Regions from separate parts of the Homo sapiens genome. Here region 2 is linked to region 1. Evidence: fine-mapped expression QTL. A gene starts in region 1. The other region holds a variant in brackets. All regions are shown on one strand. Distances are from middle to middle. Region 1 holds the start of CHST8 (carbohydrate sulfotransferase 8). Region 2 overlaps CHST8 (carbohydrate sulfotransferase 8).

The links. PIP is the estimated chance that this variant, and not a neighbour inherited with it, causes the effect. A credible set is the group of variants that fine-mapping cannot tell apart.
Region 2: its variant is the best candidate, but not a certain one, in a credible set for the expression of CHST8 in whole blood (TOPMed, PIP 0.82).

Annotation. Positions count from the first base shown.
Region 1 is chr19:33,616,230-33,626,053 of GRCh38, forward strand. CHST8 (carbohydrate sulfotransferase 8) reads left to right here and starts at 5,724. Exons shown (of 5, transcript NM_001127895.2): 1 at 5,724-6,067. RefSeq lists an enhancer at 4,685-5,429.
Region 2 is chr19:33,716,710-33,726,533 of GRCh38, forward strand. The region is part of intron 3 of CHST8 (carbohydrate sulfotransferase 8); the gene reads left to right. Among named protein-coding and RNA genes, the nearest start is that of KCTD15, 75 kb to the right of the region's middle. RefSeq lists enhancers at 7,474-8,071, 8,072-8,668. The variant T/C (reference allele first, on the strand shown) is at 5,038.

The DNA of each region.
Region 1 (9,824 bases):
AGTGTCCTTCGCCCCACCACGGGCAGGCCTGGAGAAGGAGCCCCGCCACTGGAGGATCATCCGTCTCAAGGATACTTGGGAACTGAAGGAGTGACCAGGAGCAGGCAGTCCAGTGGAGATCTTTTTTTTTTAATTAAGAAGCATCAAAATGAACTTGAGTTTGGCAAGACCTCAATAGAGTAGCCAAGCTGGCTCCAAGCCTGGTTTGCATGGAGGGGCTGGACTTGGCTTGGGCATGGCTCTGTCTTGGGCTCTGGGGTCAGCAAAGCCCCCTGCAGGCCTGCCCACCTCAGGCTGTGGGGAGCGCATCAGGGCCACCAAGGCAGTGAGTGGTCTGCAGCTCTAGGGATGGCGACCCATCCTAGAGAGCCAACAGCTGCCCCCAGAGTACTCGAACCTTATTCCCTGGTTCCTGCCTTCTTCCCTCCTGGGTACTCAGCGCCTCTCTGCTCTGTTGGATTCCCCAGTGTCCTTTTAAGAAAGTCTGGCAGGGCATGGTGGCTCATGCCTATCATCCCAACACTTTTGGGAGGCCAAGCAGGAAGATGACTCAAGCCTAGGAGTTCGAGACCAGCCTAGGTAGCACAGTGAGACCCTGTCTCTACAGAAAATAAAAAATAAAAAATTAGTTGGCCATGGTGGTGCACACCTGTGTTCCCAGCTACTCAGGAGAACGAGGTGGGAGGACCCTTTGAGCCCAGGAGTTTGAGGTTGCAGTGAGCTAGGGTCATGCCACTGCACTCCAGCCTGGGTGATAGAGTGAGATTCTGTCTCAGAAAAATAAAGTCTCCCCTTTCTTTGCAAGTTAGTCATAGTTTCTGTTGTGCACTCTCTAGAAAACCACATCTGTTCACCAACTCTCTTCTGTGTTAAGGACTGGTGTCACTTTAGCCTGCCCCAGAAAAACTTCTCTTTAAAGAGAAACTATTCCTTTTTTTTTTTTTTTTTTTTTCAGACGGAGTCTTGCTCTGTTACCCAGGCTGGAGTGCAGTGGCGCCATCTCAGCTCGCTGCAACCTCCACCTCCTGGGTTCAAGCAATTCTCCTGCCTCAGCCTCCCCAGTAGCTGGGATTATAGGCGTGCACCATCACGCCTGGCTAATTTTTGTGTTTTTAGTAGAGATGGGGTTTCACCATGTTGGCCAGGCTGGTGTTGAACTCCTGACCTTGTGATCTGCCCTTCTCTGCCTCCCAAAGTGCTGGGATTACAGGCGTGAGCCACCATACCCAGCCAAGAGAAACCATTCTTATACCCTGAGGAATGATGGTGAAATTTCGAAATTGTGACAGGTATATGGGGTTCAGGGATGCCCAGAACCCCCAGCAATGTTGCTTATGCAGGGGATACCCACCCAGGCATATTGACATCAGGAAATTTCAGACAACTCAACTCAGAAGGAAACAAAGTGACCCTCCAGCTCCTTGAAAACCCAAGAGGTGACAGAAAAGGGGAAAGGAGAGAGGAGGAAAAGGCCTGGGAAGGAACATTCATCCCATAAGGTGGCCAAGGGATACCTTGGCTGGAAATGAGTCTGGGCCACGTTCCCTGGTGAGGAACTTTTAGGAATCATGGAATTGCACAGCAGGCCTTCAGATCCTGGGCCCCCATCCCTCATCTTTCGAATGGGGAGGTCGAGGCCTGGGGAGGGAAGGCATGGCCCGGAGCCCACACAGGCCCCAGAGAGCAGCTGAGGAAGGCAGGTCCGTTCCCAGGAGGAGTCTCCCGCCTGGATGGCACTCTGATCAGCACGTCACTGGCCTGTCTGTGTGTTGAACTGACTTCAGGAAGCCTTGGGGTCACAATATTGCAGAGGCCATTACAGGGCCAGATGTTGGACGTGGAAGCAAGGCCAGGCCACGTCATACCCTGAGGTGACTAGTCTGTGGGTGGCTAAGGGCAGTCTGGTCACAGGACTCCAATTCCCAAAATGCCATGACACCCTTCACCTTTCCTCTGCAGGGACAGTCTATTGTCTCTGCATACAGGGAACAGGCTCTGAGGGGTTAGGAGACAAGTTCAAGACCCCCTAGCTGGCACCTGGGAGAGCTGAAGCAGACCTCCTGGCCCATCCCATCATTCCCTTCTTCCTCCCATGGGATGCAGGGAGACAGATGAGGTGTTCCCGACCTGCCAGTATAGATGGCTCCCAAACTCCTCTGTGGAACAAGTCTTCTTCTTCTTCTTCTTCTTCCTCGTCTTCTTCTTCTTCTTCTTCTTCTTCTTCTTCTTCTTCTTCTTCTTCTTCTTCTTCTTCTTCTTCTTCTTCTTCCTCTTCTTCTCCTCCTCCTTCTTTTTCCTCTTCTTCCTCTTCTTTTCTTCTTCTTCTTCTTCTTCCTCTTCTTCCTCTTCTTCCTCCTCTTCCTCCTCTTCCTCCTCTTCTTCCTCTTCTTCCTCTTCTCTTCTTCTTCTTCTTCTTCTTCTTCTTCTTCTTCTTCTTCTCCTTCTCCTTCTCCTTCTTCTTTTTTTTTTAATAGAGTCTCACGCTGTCACCCAGGCTGGAGTGCAGTGGCACAATCTCAGCTCACTGCAACTTCTGCCTCCCAGATTCAAGTGATTCTCCTGCCTCAGCTTCCTGAGTAGCTGGGGCTACAGGTGAGCACCACCATGCCCTGCTAACTTTTGTATTTTTAGTAGAGATGGGGTTTTGCTATGTTGGCCAGGCTGGTCTCAAACTCCTAGCCTCAAGTGATCTGCCCACCTCAGCCTCCCAAAGTGCTGGAATTACAGGCATGAGCCACCATGCCCAGCCTGTTCTGGTTCCTCTCATGGCAACAGATGGAAGGTTCAGGACTCAAGACTCAGTCTTGCCAAACACAATGTGAGACAGTCTCAGCTTCCCACTGTGCCACCTTCAGCCTCCAGCCCAAAGACGGGCAGGAACCTTCACTTGCAGGAACGGCCTGAGGAAAGGGAGCCCAGAGCCAGTGGAGGCGGGGGTCTGCCTGCGTCCCAGAGCCAAGCCCCCTCCTCTTTCCTGTATCCTTGTTGCAGCAAACAGATTGGCACCTGAACCTCTCTATTAGCCCTTCTGGGGCTTAGGCTGTGGGCGCATGGGGCCATGCACTAAAAATGTCTTTCACCTTAGTTGGGATGCAAAGAGACAAGTTTGCCACTAATCTTTCGGTGGAGACACACATATCAAAAATCGCAAGTGAGCACACAAGGCTTCCTGCAGGGAATTGCAGCCTTCCTGCTCCTCCCTCGCTGCAGAGGCTGAGCCTGACTTTCAAAAAAGGGCACGCAGCCCTTGGCAAATCTCGGAGGAAAACTCACTGCGAGTTGGTGCCAGGGGCCTCAGGCCCCCTTTGGGGATTTCCCCCATGGCCTCTCAAAACAAGAAGGAAGTCTGAGTTAAAAATGGAAAATGGAGAGAATGTCAAAGGAATGCAGCGTTATTGATTCCTAGTGGTGTCTGCCTGAATATTAGATGCAAATAAGTGCTAATAAGTACAGTTGGGAAAGCTAATGGAAAAACCATCCTTCCCAGGAGGATCGCGGCACACAGATGCACAGTGTTGCTGAGATGGCTTGGCTCGCTCCACTCACTGGTCACGGCAAAGCCTGTATAGATGCATCCCAGGGAAATAAAGCCTGTGTAGACTTGTCGCATGGAAGTACTCATGGTCCAGAGCCCCCTTTCCAGCTTTGAGGCTGGGCTCTGGAAATGGGAGCTCCTATTATCTCCCCATTGCAGTTAAGTCTCTCTTTCTCTCTCCGTGTGTGTGCATGTGTGTGTGTGTGTGCATGCATTTGCCCTCTGGAGTGTTCATGGTACTGAAGAGATTCTCTTGACCATCAGGCCTCTGTGGCAAAAGTTGTGTGCTCTGTTCCAGGCCTAACTGCAGACAGGGAGCTCATGGGCAGCTGCCCAGCCAAGCTATGGTCAGGACCTTGGGTGGCAAGAGGGGCTGCAAGTGTGGGGTAAGGGGACCACAGGGACAGGGATGGGGTCATTGCACTGTGAGCTAGTCCGGCAAGTGACTTTTTGCTCACTCCACTCTCCCCTCTCTTTGTTCCTACCTTCTCTCCTGCTCTGCTCCAACAGCTTTGGGATGTAGGATGAATAAGGGTTCCACTGCCCTGTTTTTCCTGACACTTGAGTCCCTGGCCCTTGCACTCAGCTCCTCCAATCTGCACCTGACTGAGGCGGAGGAGGGTGATTTCAGACACACACACACACACACACACACACACACATTCCCCTCATGCGTGCAGCCAGTGGAGTGTGCCTGGGTCCCAGCGCAGCCCCAGGCCTGGGTCACTCCGAGCCTAAAGTCCTGGAAAGGGAACCCCAGAACAAAGCCTATCCCAGTTTGGAATCATCACACCTGGGCCATTCTCCAGATGCGTGGAGTCCAGCAAAATGGTGGCATTTTTGCATCTCAATTCGCTCATCTGTAATACGGGAGTGATAATGTCTACTCTGTTGCTGCAAGAATTAAAGGAAGACCATGATCTCTTTGTCATGCTTCTATTTATCTTCTTATCTGTCCTGGTCTATTTTTGGATGCTCTGAGCTTACCTGGGGCATTAAGGAGGCCTCATGGCCCTGGGGCTGAGGGGCTCCCTGGCCGTCCCCAGGAGTGGCTCTGCTCTCCGCCTGGTGTCCCCCACTCTGGTCAGTCAAGACCCATGGGCCCAGCTCACTCCCCAATTCCATCACTCACTCTAGGTCAGCTGGTAGGAGTCAGGCCAACCAGCCAGCAGGTACCATTAGAGAGGAGAGAGTAAGGGTCTTTCACTTTATTAAAGGCTTCTCTGCTGTTGTTTGAAAATACTGAGTGTCCCTTCAAGACTAACAGGTGACTGTGTGCACAGTTTCCTCCAGCTCCTGTGAGAAAGCAGTTGCCCCCCTTCCCAAGGCCTGCTTGTCCCCTGCAGGCTGGGGCTGCCTCTTCTTAGGAAGAACAAGGACCCGAATCCAGGGCCCCGTGTTCCTGTCCCTACTCTGTCCCGGTGCTGTGTGGCCGTGGGCCGGTTCCACCCTCCACGCTGTTTTCCCGAGTGTGTATGAAGAGGGTCGGTTGGCCCCGCTCTCAGGCTGGTGACCCGACACAAACTTCCAGGATGAAGTCCTGAAGGGAGCACCTGTTCGCAGGGCACTTTCAGCAGAATCTAGAGCCCCAGGGATTTGAGGATGGATGCGGACACCCGGGCCTGAGGCAGCTCGCGGCCTTGACCGAATTCCACGCGAGCTGAAGCCCAGGGATATCCCAGAATCTTCCTCAGGATCAATCTTCCGCCTTTCACCGGCCCTGCGCCCCCGCAGCATCGGGTCCTGGGCGCGCGCCCCTGCCCCGCTGTGGTCAAGGCCCGCCCCGGTGACGCCTGGTCCTTTTCCCGGGTTGGCGCCGCGTGCGACCCACCGAGGCAGTGGCAGCACTGGCCGCGGTCTGGAGCCTAGCGTCAGGCCGGAGTCCGGCTCTCCTGAACCGGGAGACCGGCGCAGCCCCAGCCACGACCGCTCCCACCCCCGCGGCCGCCGGACCGCGCCCAGCAGCGACTCTTTCTGAGAGCGCTGCCAGAGGGGCCGCGGGAGCCGCAGAGCGCGCGTGGGCGCGGCGCCCGCGAGCCCCCGGGAGGGCCGAGTGCATCGCTGGAGCGATCCCCGCCCGGCCCGGCCACCGCCGTAGCCGCCACCACGGCGGGGCGGGGCACGGGCCGGGGGCGGGGCGCCGGGCGGGCGCGGCGCTATTTCCAGCCTCGCCGGAGGCTTCGCTCTCACTTCGCTGGGAGCCTTCCCGGCGCGCAAGCCGGATCCGGCAGTGCTGCGGGGAGGAGAGAGGACGAGGCGGCGGCGGCAGCAGGAGGTGGGGGACCGATCGCGCCGGGGGCCGAAGAGGAACGCCGCCCCGCGCCCTCTCGCTCCCCGCACGCTCCGGCTGCCGGCCCCACGCTGCTCGCCCACAGATCGCACTGGGTTCCGCTTGGAGCGGGCGGAGGCACCGGGCCCGAGCTGGGTCGGAGGTCCTCTCCGCCGCCTGCGCGCCCCAAGCAGAGGATCCGCCGCGGAGAACCGCTCCCGGACTGGAGGCGCCCGCGGCCTCGGGTGCGTCCGCTGCGCCAGGTAAGTGGCTGCGCCCCTGCCCCACCCCTGTTCCCGCCCTGCGCAGGCTCCTGGCCTGCAGAGACGCCAGGAAGGGGTCCCGAGCGGGCCCCGGACTGCACCGCTCGCCATCCCCGCCACCGCACGCGAATGGGAGTCCGAAGCTGCGGGCGGAGGTGGGCGCGCGGGGCTCGGGTCTGGTTGCACTTTGGGGACCGGCCCCGGTAGCGGGAACTTTAATTAGACTTTCTCTCCTTGGATCTCACTCGCTGCCGCGCTTCTGGGAACTGCCGTCCCTCGGGCCCTCTTGGTCCCTGCGGACTCCCGCTCCGCCTCCTGGCCCTCGGTGCTGCCCGCGGGGAGGCGGCGTCGGGCGCTGAGCAGCGAGCGCCGAGGGCCAGGCAGGAGCGCTCGGGGCGCTGGGGCTTCCTGGCGCGCTCGGAGCCGGGGCTCCGGACGGGTTGCGGCGGGCAGAGACTATGGGGGAAGTTTAAGTGGCCTTGGCTTCCTACCCAGCGGCTCCGTCGCGCGCGTCCCCGACCCGCAACTCTCCAGGGCACCGGCCTGTGAGTGCTGGAGGCGAGTGTGCGTGCGTCAGCGATGGTGTGAAGGTGTGTGCGTGCGTGTGTCGGGAGTGCGGGAGTCGGAGCCTGGGGCGGCTCCAGGGGGCGGGGAAATGATCCGTTTGGCCGCGGGACCGAGCCGAGCTCTGACGGCGGCTGCAACTCCGGCTACCGACTCTGCAGACCCGCTCTGGCCTCGCTGGAGGCCAGCCGGGCCAGGAGGGCGATCACGGGTTTTGGCAGTGCCCGATGCTGGGGCTTGGGTCTGATGTGACCCCGATTCCTTCTCCAGTGCGGGACTCCCGCCGCCCTAACTTTCGCGTACATCTTGTCTCCAGGCCCGCGACCCCGACCCGGAGTTGAAGCGGCTGCGGCGCCCTCGGCTGTGGGCGCTGCTGCCCGGCTGTCTGTTTTAACCCAGAAGTAGGCGCCGATCCTGGGGCTCTCTGTCCTGCAGTCGTCTCCGGCGTCCCAGAGGACTCTGCGTCCCTGGGCCACTCCCGCTGGCTCAGGAGCCGTGATCAGCTCCGTTAAGGGGAACGCGCGTCCCGGCCCCTCTCCATCTGCTTGGCGCGATCTGGCGCAGCAGCAGAGCACGTGGGAGAGGCGTTGGGTGCAGGGAGGTAGTAGCTGCTTTGGAGTGGATGGTGGAGAGGGGCGGGGGACAGAGGGGTAAGAGGCAGATCAACCCCCTTTTATTTCCCACCGCCGCCCAAGGCCCCCAGGAGCTACAATACCAAGCCCACTTTCCTGGGTAACCTTTCTCTTCTGAGTTCACCTTGACCCTTGCCTACCTGTGGGGAAGTCTTTCCCTAAGTCCTGCCCTAGGACAGGGCACCCGTGGAGCAGGTGTGGCAGAGCCCTTAACATTTTCCAGCTGTCATGACCTTTCCTGCCCACCCTGTGCCCTGTCCCAAAGGCAAGGCAGACAGGCCACAGGAAGGACACTCATCCCAGCAGGAGATCCTCTTTTAATTTTAATCAGGACACCCCAAGCACAGAAGGCGGCGTGGGAGTTCATTCAGGAGCGTTCAGCAGACTGGCCTCTGTGAAGTGACCCACGGGAGGAATAACATTGGAACCCTGAAGAGAGGGACCTCTTGAGGGTCTGAATGTTGGTTCCAGTGGGACTGGCTGATCAATTATCCAATAGCATTTGAACACAGAAAAACCTCAAAGCCGGAACCTGACCCATTGCCTGGCCCAGTCGCCCTGGGACACACAAACAGTGCAGCTCATTTATTTACTTATTTATTTATTAACCTGGAATCAGACTCGGCAAGAGTGAATTATGTTTCCCGGGTATTGATTTTTAAAAAGACCCCAAATTAAAAAGTCAAGGCTTTCTTAAAGCAAGGTCAAGGATTAATTATTTATCGAGAGGCATCCATCAGGCAGCGTGGGGGCTCATTTATAAATTGCCTGAGCAGGCAAAATGAGCATCTTTTGATTTTCCTTGGCTCCAGTTGGGAGAGGAGAGCAGGCTCGTCTGACCTCCTGGGCTTGGTAGAACATCCCCCTCGGACTGTAACCGACGACAGAGGATGCTTTGTAACTCAGCCTGCTGTTAGAGATGCCTTTATAATCTTGTAGCCAGAATATCACTTGGGAAATTTCATGCATATTTGCTGTGTTTCCATAATGAACATTTACTGATTACAGGGTATCCAGGGAATTTCATTTTTTAAACATTTATTCAAATCTCTGTTTATGTAAGCTAATAAGTCTGGGAAAGTTCAAAAACGACTTTTTTGCCGTATGGTTGTTGAGAAAGTGTGTCTGGTGGGCTACTCTCAGAATTTGTCTTCAGTTCTCTTAAAAAGGGGAGAGTCAGATTTGCCTGATTGGAAACCTCGCGCAGGCTGCTCCCCTGCTCTGAGCTCTGAGTTCCTGCCAGAGGCAGCCTGATAGGCTTTTTGTGGTTTTGCTGATGGAAGAGAGGAAGGGGAGCTTTGATCATTGCTGATGCGTCTGGCTGGAGAAATTTTTAGTGAGTGCGGCTGTGCTTGTAGGGGCTGATGGGGAAGGTGTGGCCCAAGCTGAGGTCCCTGGCTGATGTCCCCATCTCCTGCCTGCTGCCTGGCCTGGAATCTGAGATCCCTGTCTTAGCTACATCTGCTGCTTTGCAGCTTGGAAAAACCTCCCTCCCTGATTTACTGGTGCGTGGCAGCCACACTGGAGAAACGTGGGGCAGCGGGGAACCTGTGAGCAGGAAAGAGGACACAGGATTATGGCAGCTTTCTTTCTTTCTTTTTTTTTTTTTTGAGATAAAGTTTCACTCTTGTTGCCCAGGCTAGAGTGCAATGTTGCGATCTCTGTTTGCCACAAGCTCTGCCTCCTGGGTTCAAGCAATTCTCCTGCCTCAGCCTCCCGAGTAGCTGGGATTACAGGCATGCGCCACCACTCCCGGCTAATTTTGTATTTAGTAGAGACAGGGTTTCACCATATTGGCCAGGATGGTCTCGATCTCCTGACCTCGTGATCCGCCCACCTTGGCCTCCCAGAGTGTTGGGATTACAGGCGTGAGCTACCGCGCCCCGCATGGCTGCTCTTTAGTGAGCAACCGTGGCAATTAGAGCCGATAAACACCATGTGGAATGAGTGGCCAGCCTTTCAGCTAACCAGAAGGTGACGAGTTATAAACTGGAGATTTATATAGTGCTGGCCCAAGGAGATCAATGTGACCCGGCAGTGGCACAGCAAAAAATGAAATAAATAAGTAAATATGTTTTTAAAAGATCGGCCAGGCACGGTGGCTCACGCCTGTAATCCCAGCACTTTGGGAGGCCGAGGTGGGTGGATCACTTGAGGTCAGGAGTTTGAGACCAGCCTGACCTACGTGGTGAAACCCAGTCTCTACTAAAAAGACAAAAATTAGCCGGGCATGGTGGTGCTCACCTGTAGTCCCAGCTACTCAGGAGGCTGAGGCAGGAGAATCACTTGAACCTGGGAGACAGAAGTTGCAGTGAGCCGAGATCATGCCCCTGCACTCCAGCCTAGGCGACAAAGCGAGACTGTCTCAAAATAAATTTTTTTTTTTAAATTGAGGTTGGTGCCTGGATGTAGATATGGCATCAGTGTCCTGCAACCTCAGAAAGTTGGCTGGGCATGAGCAATCTGCATGGTGACAGCGTGGTGACAGTAGGCTGTTTGGTGCTGTCTTTGGCGCCATATTCAGGGCTCATCTGACTCCAGAGCGGCTGTGTTCCCTCCAG
Region 2 (9,824 bases), 100 kb after region 1:
AGGGTATTCGGGTGAGGAGTCAACCCTCTTGGTTCCAAGGGAGAATCATTAGTTGGCTAGGGTTGCTGTAGCAAAGTATTATGGACTAAGTGGCTTAAACAACAGAAATGTGTTTTTTCACAGTCCTGGAGGCCAGGAGTCTGAGATCAAGGCATTGGGCAGCGTCGGTTTCTTCTGGGACCTTTCTCCTGGGTTTGTAGATGGCCATCTTCTCCCTGTGTCCTCCCATGGTTTTCCCTCTGCCCCTGTCTGCATCAGAATTTCCTCTTTATAAGGATACCCGTTCTAGGGATCACTAGGGTACACTCTAATGACTCCATTTTTGATACCGGTGGGCTGGGGGAGGTCCTCGAATGCCAGTGGGGCCTCAACCCCAGCCAGTGTCCAGGCTCTTGACACCCTTGCAAGAAGGAATTCAGAAAATAGTGCAAGTATAGGGATTTATTACAAAGTGAAAAGTACATGCTCTGGCTGGGTGAGGTGGCTCATGCTTATAATCCCAGCACTTTGGGAGGCCAAGGCAGGCAGATCACCTGAGGTTGGGAGTTCGAGACCAGCCTGACCAATATGGTGAGACCCTGTCTCTAATAAAAATACAAAAATTAGCCAGGCGTGGTGGTGCGCGCCTGTAGTCCCAGCTTCTCAGGAGGCTGAGACAGGAGAATTGCTTGAACCCAGGAGGCAGAGGTTGCAGTGAGCCGAGATCACACCACTGCACTCCAGCCTGGGCAACAGAGCGAGACTCCATCTCAAAAAAGAAAAAAAAAGTACACGCTCAAGAAAGGAGTGCCGGCAGACTCAAGAGTCGTGTGGTGGGGTGTGGGGCTGCTACCTTTATGCGTTTATTTAATCCAGGGGTGGAATATTCATGAAAATTCCTGGGAAAAAAGTGGAGATTTCTTAGAACTGTAGTGCCACACGTTTTTACACCAAACATGGGTGGTCTCGGAACTGTCACAGCACTGGTGGGTGAGTGAGTTAGGATGTTAATGAGCATACAGCGAGGTCCTAGGAGAAACCGAGGTCATATCTAGTGCCATGTTGGGCCCAGTTGGTCTTAGCCAGCTTGGTCCACACCCTGTTTTTCAGGGTGTCATATGAAACTACTGCCTGGAATTTTTATTCTCCTGTGGCCACCTTGTATTATTCCTGTCTCATTTTAACTTAATTACCTCTGCAAAGACTCTATCTGCAGTCACATTCAGAGGTACTGGGGGTTAGGACTTCAAGGTGGATTTGGAGGGGAATGCAGTTCATTCTATACCAAACGGACTTGCAGTCTCCATCCTGGCAGAAGACCCCCAGTGTGTACAGGACCGGAAGGCAGCCAGGGCTTTGATCACTCTGTCTGAAGCCTCCCAGTTAGTCCTCTGAAAGCAGTGCTCCCTGCTCCTCCTCCCAGCTTGGAGTCCATAGGTTATTTGCAGTTTCCTCAGCAGGTACATCTTCCATCTCCCGCCAGGGGTGCAGTAGGGGATAGTTGCCTGGTCACTGGATTGTCTTTTTTTCTTTCTTTTTTTTTTTTTTTAAACAGACTCTTGCTCTGTTGCCCAGGCTGGACTACAGTGGCCCAATCATAGCTCACTGCTGCTTTGAACTCCTGGACTCAAGTGATCCTCCCATCTTGGCCTCCCAAAGTGCTGGGATTACAGGCGTGAGCCTCTGTGCCCAACTGCCACTAGATTTTTAAGCCCACATTTCACCCCTGCCATCTGCCTGTCCTGGTGCTTCCAAGTCCTGCACTTTGCTGCATTCTGTGGGGCAAGGCAGTCTTCCCCGCACTCCTCTGCAGGCTCAGCTAGCATGTCCCCTTCACCCTGTAGAATCTGCTCCCACCCTCCGTCCCCTTCCCATCTTCCAAAATCATGTTGCAATCTGGCATCTGCTGCTGTTCCTCTCTAGCTCTCTTCATTACCATGGGCCCCTCTGTTTCATTCCTTCGCTGTCATTATGCTGGGATCTCAGGAGGAAGATGAGCTCAACGTACACGTTCAGTCCCTGTGTTTACCCAGAATCCTCCTGGCTTCTCCCCAAGAAGAGGTCAGAGCCGCAGCCTGCGGAGGAGGGTGTTGAGGCAGCTCAGCCAGCATGAGGCTGGCCCTGCTGGATCCAGTGGGGAGAGGTCACGGTCCCCTAGGGCTGAGGAGGGAGAGAGAGAGCTGTGGGCGGGGCCTGTGCATCTGTCCTTGGAGTCCTGAAGTCTTGAATCTCTGTTGCTACTGAGAGGGAAGGAGGCCTCCAGGTCTTGCTCTGCACTACAGGGGCTCTGGACTTGTTGGAGAGGTGTCTCTTCACTCCAGGGCTTCCACCCGAGACCTGGGCTCCCGGGACTGGGTGTGCCCAGCCTCCTCTCCCCCACCCCCCTGCCAGTGATGTCATAGGTGTGACACTGCAGCCAAAGACCAGGCGAACTCAGGCGGGTGTCTACCACCTCCAAAATAAAACGTGTTTTCTAAACTGTTGCTGAAGCTGCTGAAATGTTTTGTAAAATGTTTACACCTCCCTTGATATAAGGCAAATACCTTCTGTCAGCCGGGGGTGGGCCGGGTGGGGGAGCCCTGGGCGGGGAGGCAGGATCAAGTGGCTCTGGTGTCATTGGTGACACCCATGTGTGTTCACTCCTGGTGGAATTTCTCCTCTCAAGGTCTCTCTGTCCTTGCTGGGGAGATGGGGACTGGGTCCTTGGACACTTCTGTTTTAGGAAGCCTAAGCTCACTGAGGAATTGTTCTAGGGGAAGTGTCTTTGAAGGAGGTGAGGCAGACACGAAGTCCAAAGCTGAGGGGATGGGGAGTTGCTGAAAATGAGTGTTCCCTGGAGAGTGGCAACCATCCCTGGAGGTGGCAGGCGCTGAGAGACAGAACTCGGGGGGACACCTAGGGAGACTGGACTGCAGCCCCAGGGCTGACTTCCCAGCCATCTGACCAGAGGGAATGGAAGGCAGAGATCCCCCAGACACCCCAGGCTGTCTGGGTCCAGGGAGCTTCACAGGGTCCTAAAGAGGGGGATGGGGACCTGGAGCAATTTACTGTGAGTTACAAAAAAAAAAAAAAATCACATGCAGTCGGACCTGAACCATGCACAGTGAGCCTGGCTTTACACTTGAGCATGACACGTGATACCCACTGTCTCCTCCAGCAGCTCTCTTGAAGGCCAGGGAAGCCAGCCCGTCCGTGACCTCTGTGACAGAGCTACTGCTGCAGCCACACACTCAGTGTGTCAGGCACTAGATAGAAATGGAAAGGCTTCAGGCCACACACAAGGCCGTGGGGCTCCAGCTTCCCCTCTGGGAGAGCTTCGGCACTACATGTTCTCTCCTAGGCAGCACTGTGGTGTCGGCAGCCCCGCTGTCTGTACACACAGCTCCTCCGCCAGGCTGGAGTCACCCTCTATGCCCAGAAACTCCCACGGAAGAAGGGCATGGGCAGCTCCTCATACCATGGGGAGGGACAGGAGGGACTGTGTGGGCCTGGTGGTGACATGCACACATGACATACACCCATACATGTACCACACATACACACCCCATACCCCATACACACGCCACACATACACCACACATACGCAGGCCACACACACATACACACTCCCACACACACATCACATATACACACTGCACACACACACCACACATACATACACACCACACATGCATCACACATACCCCACATACACCACACATGCACCACACACCCCGCACACATGTACCACACACATGCACCACACATATATACCACACATACCCACACTGCACACACATGCACCACACATACACACTGCACACCACACACACCACATATGCTTGCCACACACACACGGAATGCATGTAGCAAACACACTCTGCCCATTGGCCTCTGTCCACCATCCAAAGCTTCTCTGCCAGCCCTGGCATCTGCTTACAGTGGAGGGGCAGCCCTTTTCTTCCTGGGGCTCCCACAGTAAGCTGAGCAGAGCACACTGCTGAGAGCTGGAAGTTCTCCCCTCAAGACCATGGGGACACAGGAGGCAGGGAGCTGGGCAGGCAGTGGTATGCAGTGTCAGGAGCCTCCAGGGCAGGCCCCCACTCCCCTATCCTCCTTCCACTATGCAGTTCCTTCCCCTTGCAGGGGTCAGCCTAGCCTGGGAGCTGGGGCCAGTTCAGGGGCTTCCATATCAGTGAGGGCCACGTCCATCATTGCTGAAAGCAGAGTGGCCACCAGCACTGGCCCGACGTGGACGCAGGGAGGAGTGGTGCCCAGACCTGGCCCAAGCCAGGGTGGCTACAGTTTGATCTGACCAGAGTTGCCCTGTCTGTCTTCAGCTTGCACCTCTGGCCATCCCAGGTTCAGGGCCACTCATCTCAGCTCTGTCTTATCTGTGGAAATAGGAAATCAAAGTCCATGTAATCACAAGGGAATCGTTCATTGGGAGGCAACTGGACCCAACCAGAAAGCTAGTGCTCTCGGGGACCCTCTCTGGGGGCCCGCAGCCATGGCTGGAAACCCTATTGCAGGGTCCTCGGAGTCAGCATTGGCTCCAGCAGCATGTGTTTGCCTTGACACCAGAAGATGGAGCCCTGAGCCAACTCACATTCCTCCAGTCCCCAGTCCTTCTCCATCTTCTGTCCTCTGAGATCGGGCATCCTCCAGGACAGAGCCCAGGTATCTTCCTATCTCTGAACACCCACAGTCACCTTCCCACACTGCATCACCACAGGGTGTGCAGGGCCTAACACTGCTATGCTAGGTTCTTAACACATGTCTGTTGTGTGGTTGGATGGATGGACAGATGGATGCATGGATGGTGAGTGGGAAGATGGATGGATGGATGGGTGGATGGATGGATAGATAGGTGGATGGACAGATTGATGGAAAGATGGATGGGTAGGCAGATGAGTGGGCATATGGATGGATGGATGGATGGATGAGTAGGCAGATAGATGGATGTGTGGGTGGGTGGGTGGGTAGATGGATGGAGGGATGTATGAATGGATAGAGGGATGGCTGGGTGGAAGAATGTATGGAGGGAAGGGTGGATGGATAGATGAATGGAAGGACGGA[T/C]AGATGGATGGAAAGTTGGACAGATGGGTAGGTGAGTGGGCAAATGGAAGTATGTGTGGGCAGATAGGTGATGGAGGGATAGATGTTTGTATAGAGGGATGGATGGATGGATGGATGGACAGATGGATGGATGGGTGGGTGAGTGGGTAGATGGATGGATGGATGGATGGACAGATGGATGGACAGATGGATGGATGGGTGGGTGAGTGGGCAGATGGATGGATGGATGGCTGTTTGGATGGATGGATGGATAGATGGAAAGATGGACAGATAGGTAGTGAGTGGGCATATGGATGGATGGGTAGACAGACTGATGGATGAGATGGATGGATGGATGGATGGATGGATGGATGGATGGATGGATGAAGGGATGGATGGATAGATGAATGGATGGATGGACAGATAGATGGGAAGATGGACAGCTAGGTGGGTGGGTGGGCAGATGGATGGATGGGTGGGTAGACAGTCTGGATGAGCTGAATGAATGGGTGGATGGAAGGTGGGAGGGAGGGAGTGATAGATGAATGGATGGATGGACAGACGGATGGAAAGATGGACAGATGGGTGGGTGCATGGGCAGATGGATGGATGGATGGGTGGACAGACTGATGGATGGACGGACGGACAGACGGATGGGTAGGTACATGTAGTAAAAGAAGGAAATACATGAGGGGAGGCAAAGATTTGTTGGTAGACTGAACCGTAGCCCCTCTGGGGACTAAATTCTCTCAGGAAACAGGTTGAAAGCTCAACATCATCTCCAGAAGCTATTTTCTTGCAGTTCGCACACCCAGCATTCCTGTGGTCTTGTCATCAGGCTGCCTCTGGCCCTGTCTTTCTTACCTCTTTGTTCCTTGGTTGCACCCCTTCCCCCTCTTCCCTGGGGCTGGGCATTCTCAATTGGTAACACGAACCTGGAGGGGATGTGAATGGAGATGAGGTTTCTGGGGAGAAACAGCTGTTTCCCACCCCGAGCGTAACTCCCATCACGGGCCTTGGGAAGCTGGAACAGCCTAACAGCCACCCCCAGTTCCCCACCCACATCTCTCTTTTCTCCCTGCTTTGATGTTCTCCAGTTAGTCCTGGCTCAGCCTCTGCAGCTGCTGATATGAATACACTAAGTGGATCAATAACATGTCAGTCCTTTGCCAGGAGCAAGGGTAAGAGGGGGTCTGCATCTATCAAGTGCTGAGTGACAGCTAATCATTTTTCACCTGGCATTCACCCTTCCGAAGATAAGCCCGGCTCTGCTGGGAACAAGAAGACAACGTCAGAGGCTCCCCTGCTCCACTTCCTGCAGAGCCCAGGGCACCAGCCTGGCTCACATTTCCACTCCCTATGCGTGATCCTGTGTTAAGTGTGGGGCTCAGTGGGAATGTGTGCACGCCCTGGGTTCATGAGCAAATGTGTCTGTGGGTGGGATTGGATCTTTGTGTGTGCGTGCATGCCTGGAGGCTGAATACCTGTGAGTGTGTGTGTATCTGAGTATTTGTTTGAGAATGTGCATGACTGCGTATGTGCAGATGTCTGTGTGCACATCCATGCAGATCTCAGTATCCATGTGAGTGTGTGCATGCACAGGCACCTAGGAGCATATGTTTGACCATTTGTGTGTGCACGCGTGTGTCTACACAAAGGTGTGTGAGGGGCCTGTGTTCATCATCAAGGTGTTGCTGTATATGCCAACATCTGCATCTCCCTTGGTTACCCTTGAGTCCTCTCTCTAGGAGACAGGATTCCCAGCAGGCTGTCCTTCCCTGAGCCATTTCACTGCCACTCCCTGCTCAGCTGGTGCCTAGAAGAGAGGAGTGGTGGCTGGAACCCTGTGCTCACCTACCATCCCCCTTCCTGCTGGAGAAAGCAGGTGCCTGTAGAAGGAAGGCAGTCTGAGGGTGAAGGATCCTGGATTGGACAGGAACATTTCAATTGCAAGGGACAGCATCAGGTAGGGCTGTATCTAGGCTCTGCCTTGGTGTGGTCAGAACTTAGCTTCTCCATTCCTTGCCTCTGCTTCTCCTCTCGTGGGCTTCAGTCCCAGATAGCCTTTTGCCAAGGGGTGGCCCTGGCATCTCTGGGCCGCCATTGTCACCCCATTGTGTTACCTGATCATCCTCGAGCCAATTCCTTTGGCAGGAGGATCCCATGCCCCTTCTGGTGTGGGTGGTGCCACCTCATCCAAACCACAGGGGCTGAGAGTGGGGAGGAGTAGCTTCCCGTGGCGAAGGGGTGCTGGTGTGGTTGTGAAGGGGGAGGTTAGGTGGACAGAAACTGAGTGTGGGTACTTTCCTCCTGGGGTGAGGTCTTGCGTCTCAGGCACTAAGAGGCTCAGCCTGCAGGCACCGGGCCTGGCTCCTCGGTGCCCTTGGCCCCACATGGGTGCTGTGCAGTCACTTCCATGCAGCCACAGGCAGCTGCTCTGGCCTCAAGCTTTAGATGAGCCTAGCCTCCTGACCAGGCTCCACCGGTTACCCCACACCCAGGCCCAGCCCCCTCCTGACACACCCTGCCCCACAGGCAGCTTCCATGCCCTGGGTGTGGGGCCTGGGACCTCCACCATCCTCTCACTGTGCAGAAGGGGAAGGTGCTGGGCGAGCCCCCACCCGGGGGTCAGGTGCTGCATTAGGGGCCTCACCTTCCCCAGTGTTCCCTCCACTTTTAGATGAGGATACCCCCGGCCCCCATCCGGGCTCAGCCAAGGAGCCGTAAGCAGTTCTGTAAAGTGTGGCTGCGGGGCTGGCAGCCGGGCTGCTCTTCCCAGGCTCCATGAATAATTGAAGCTCCATTAAAATGTGCGTCTGCAGCCTGGAGGACACGCCCTCCCTCACTGAGTGTGGGCGCAAGCCTGGACAGTATTGCCTGGGGCTGCATCTGCCTCGGAAGGCCCTGGAGGGGCACAAAGACCAGGTCAGACCTGCCACTCCTGGGCCCTGCCCCTGCCCCCTCTCCTTCCCTGCCTTCCCTTTTCTCCCCATCCTAGCATGTGGCAGGCATGGAGACCTGGCCCTGGAGCTCCCCAGCCAGGTGGCACAGAGAGGCCCACTCCGGGTGGGCTGGGGAGGTCCCCAGCTGCTCCACCTCTCCTTGGGCACTGACAGAGCCTGCTCCAAGGGTGGACTGTGGCCCAGAGTGGGGGGCCACACCTCGGCACACCCCAGCCAGGGACCAGGCCGCAGCTGCTCACCAGCAGATCCCTGGAGGATCGACCCAGCAGATGCTGGGGGTTGGGGAGGGAGTGAGGGCACAGAGCTCCCGGGAGCCATCGGCAGCGCACAGCTGTCATCAGGAGACCAGCACTGCTGTGTGTGCAAGTGCAAGCATATGTATCGGGGGGCGCTGTTATGAGGGACATGAGTGTGCGTGCACAGAGTGTGAGGGTGTCTCCAGAGCTGCGTGGCTGCATGTGATTGTGGGGACACAACCGAGTCTCTACGTCTGTGGCTCTATGTCTGCGCGTCACAAACCCTTGATCAGGCTAAGAGGTCCCCGTGGGGAAGGGCATTTCTCCTTGGCTCCTGACTGATGCCCCTCCCCACACACTCACCCCCCAGGGGCATCCTGTACCTGCTGTTGTGGGCCCCTCCTCGACTCATTCTGAGAGCTAAGCCTCGAGTCCTAATCCAAATCTGAAATTCCTGGTAATGAAATCTGTGAAAGGTGAAAATTAAAAACCCATGGCCACAATCTCCTGGTCCCTGCAGTGGCCCAGGGTCCCTGCTGAGCCCTGCGTGGGGCCTCGAGGCGCCAGTACCAGCCCTTTCCCCACTGCCCTGCCCTGAGCTCAGTGAGCCTTCACTCCCTCATTAGCAAGAAGGGTGCTTCTCCTGCCTTCACCTTCCTTTGCCCCAAATGCGACGCAAGCGAAAGATACTCTTTCTCCCTTGGCTCTCCCACCCACTCTGGCCTCCCTGGTCCTCACCACTGGGACTCTGGGGGTCTCGGCACAGAGGTGTGATGAAAGAAGGGTTAGGGGCTGCCAGGGTGAGCCAAGAGAACAGAGCTGGAGGCTTCAGCCTCGGCCAGCCCCTTATCTCTAGCCTCATCTTCTATATTCTCTCATCTGGTCGTGGTGGGTGCTTTGGGAAGGATCAGGGCAGAGTGACCTGGGCCGGAGCCTGGCCACAGGGTCTAGGTGGCTGGTATTTTGGGCTGAGCTGGACTTGCCCACTGGAGACACTGGGAATGGGGCCGCTCAGGGCTCTTGCCTGGAAGTGGTCCGATTCCCCTTGGCCCAGAGAGAAGCTTTCAGGGTGGGGCATGAAGGTCATTGCCCGCTGCAGCAGGGGCTTCTTGCATTCTCCCTCTTCCTCCTGTAAGAACCGGGGTCTGAGTTGACCCAGTTCTATCCCAAGGCCTTCAGCAACCGGGCAGAAGGCCCTCAGGCCACTGACCTCTTGAGATGACTGTGCTTTGTGGCCAGGAGTGGAAGGTGTGGTGGTAGATGGGGCAGGGGACAGGGCCAGCCAGTCACATACCAGGTCCTAAAGGCCTTGCCATCCTGGGACCTGGTATTGATGTCTTTAAAGGTGAGTATCAGCTGGTCACATTGGCTCATGCCTGTAATCCCAGCACTGTGGGAAGCTGAGGTGGGAGGATCACTTTAGCTCAGGAGTTCGAGACCAGCCTGGGCAATATAGCGAGACCCCGTTTCTACCCATAATACAAAAATTAGCATGGTGGCGCATGCCTGTAGTCCCAGCTACTCAGGGGCTTGAGCTCAGGAGATAGAGGCTGCTGGAAGTCCTGGTTGCACCACTGTCCTCCAGCCTGGGTGACAGAGCAAGACCCTG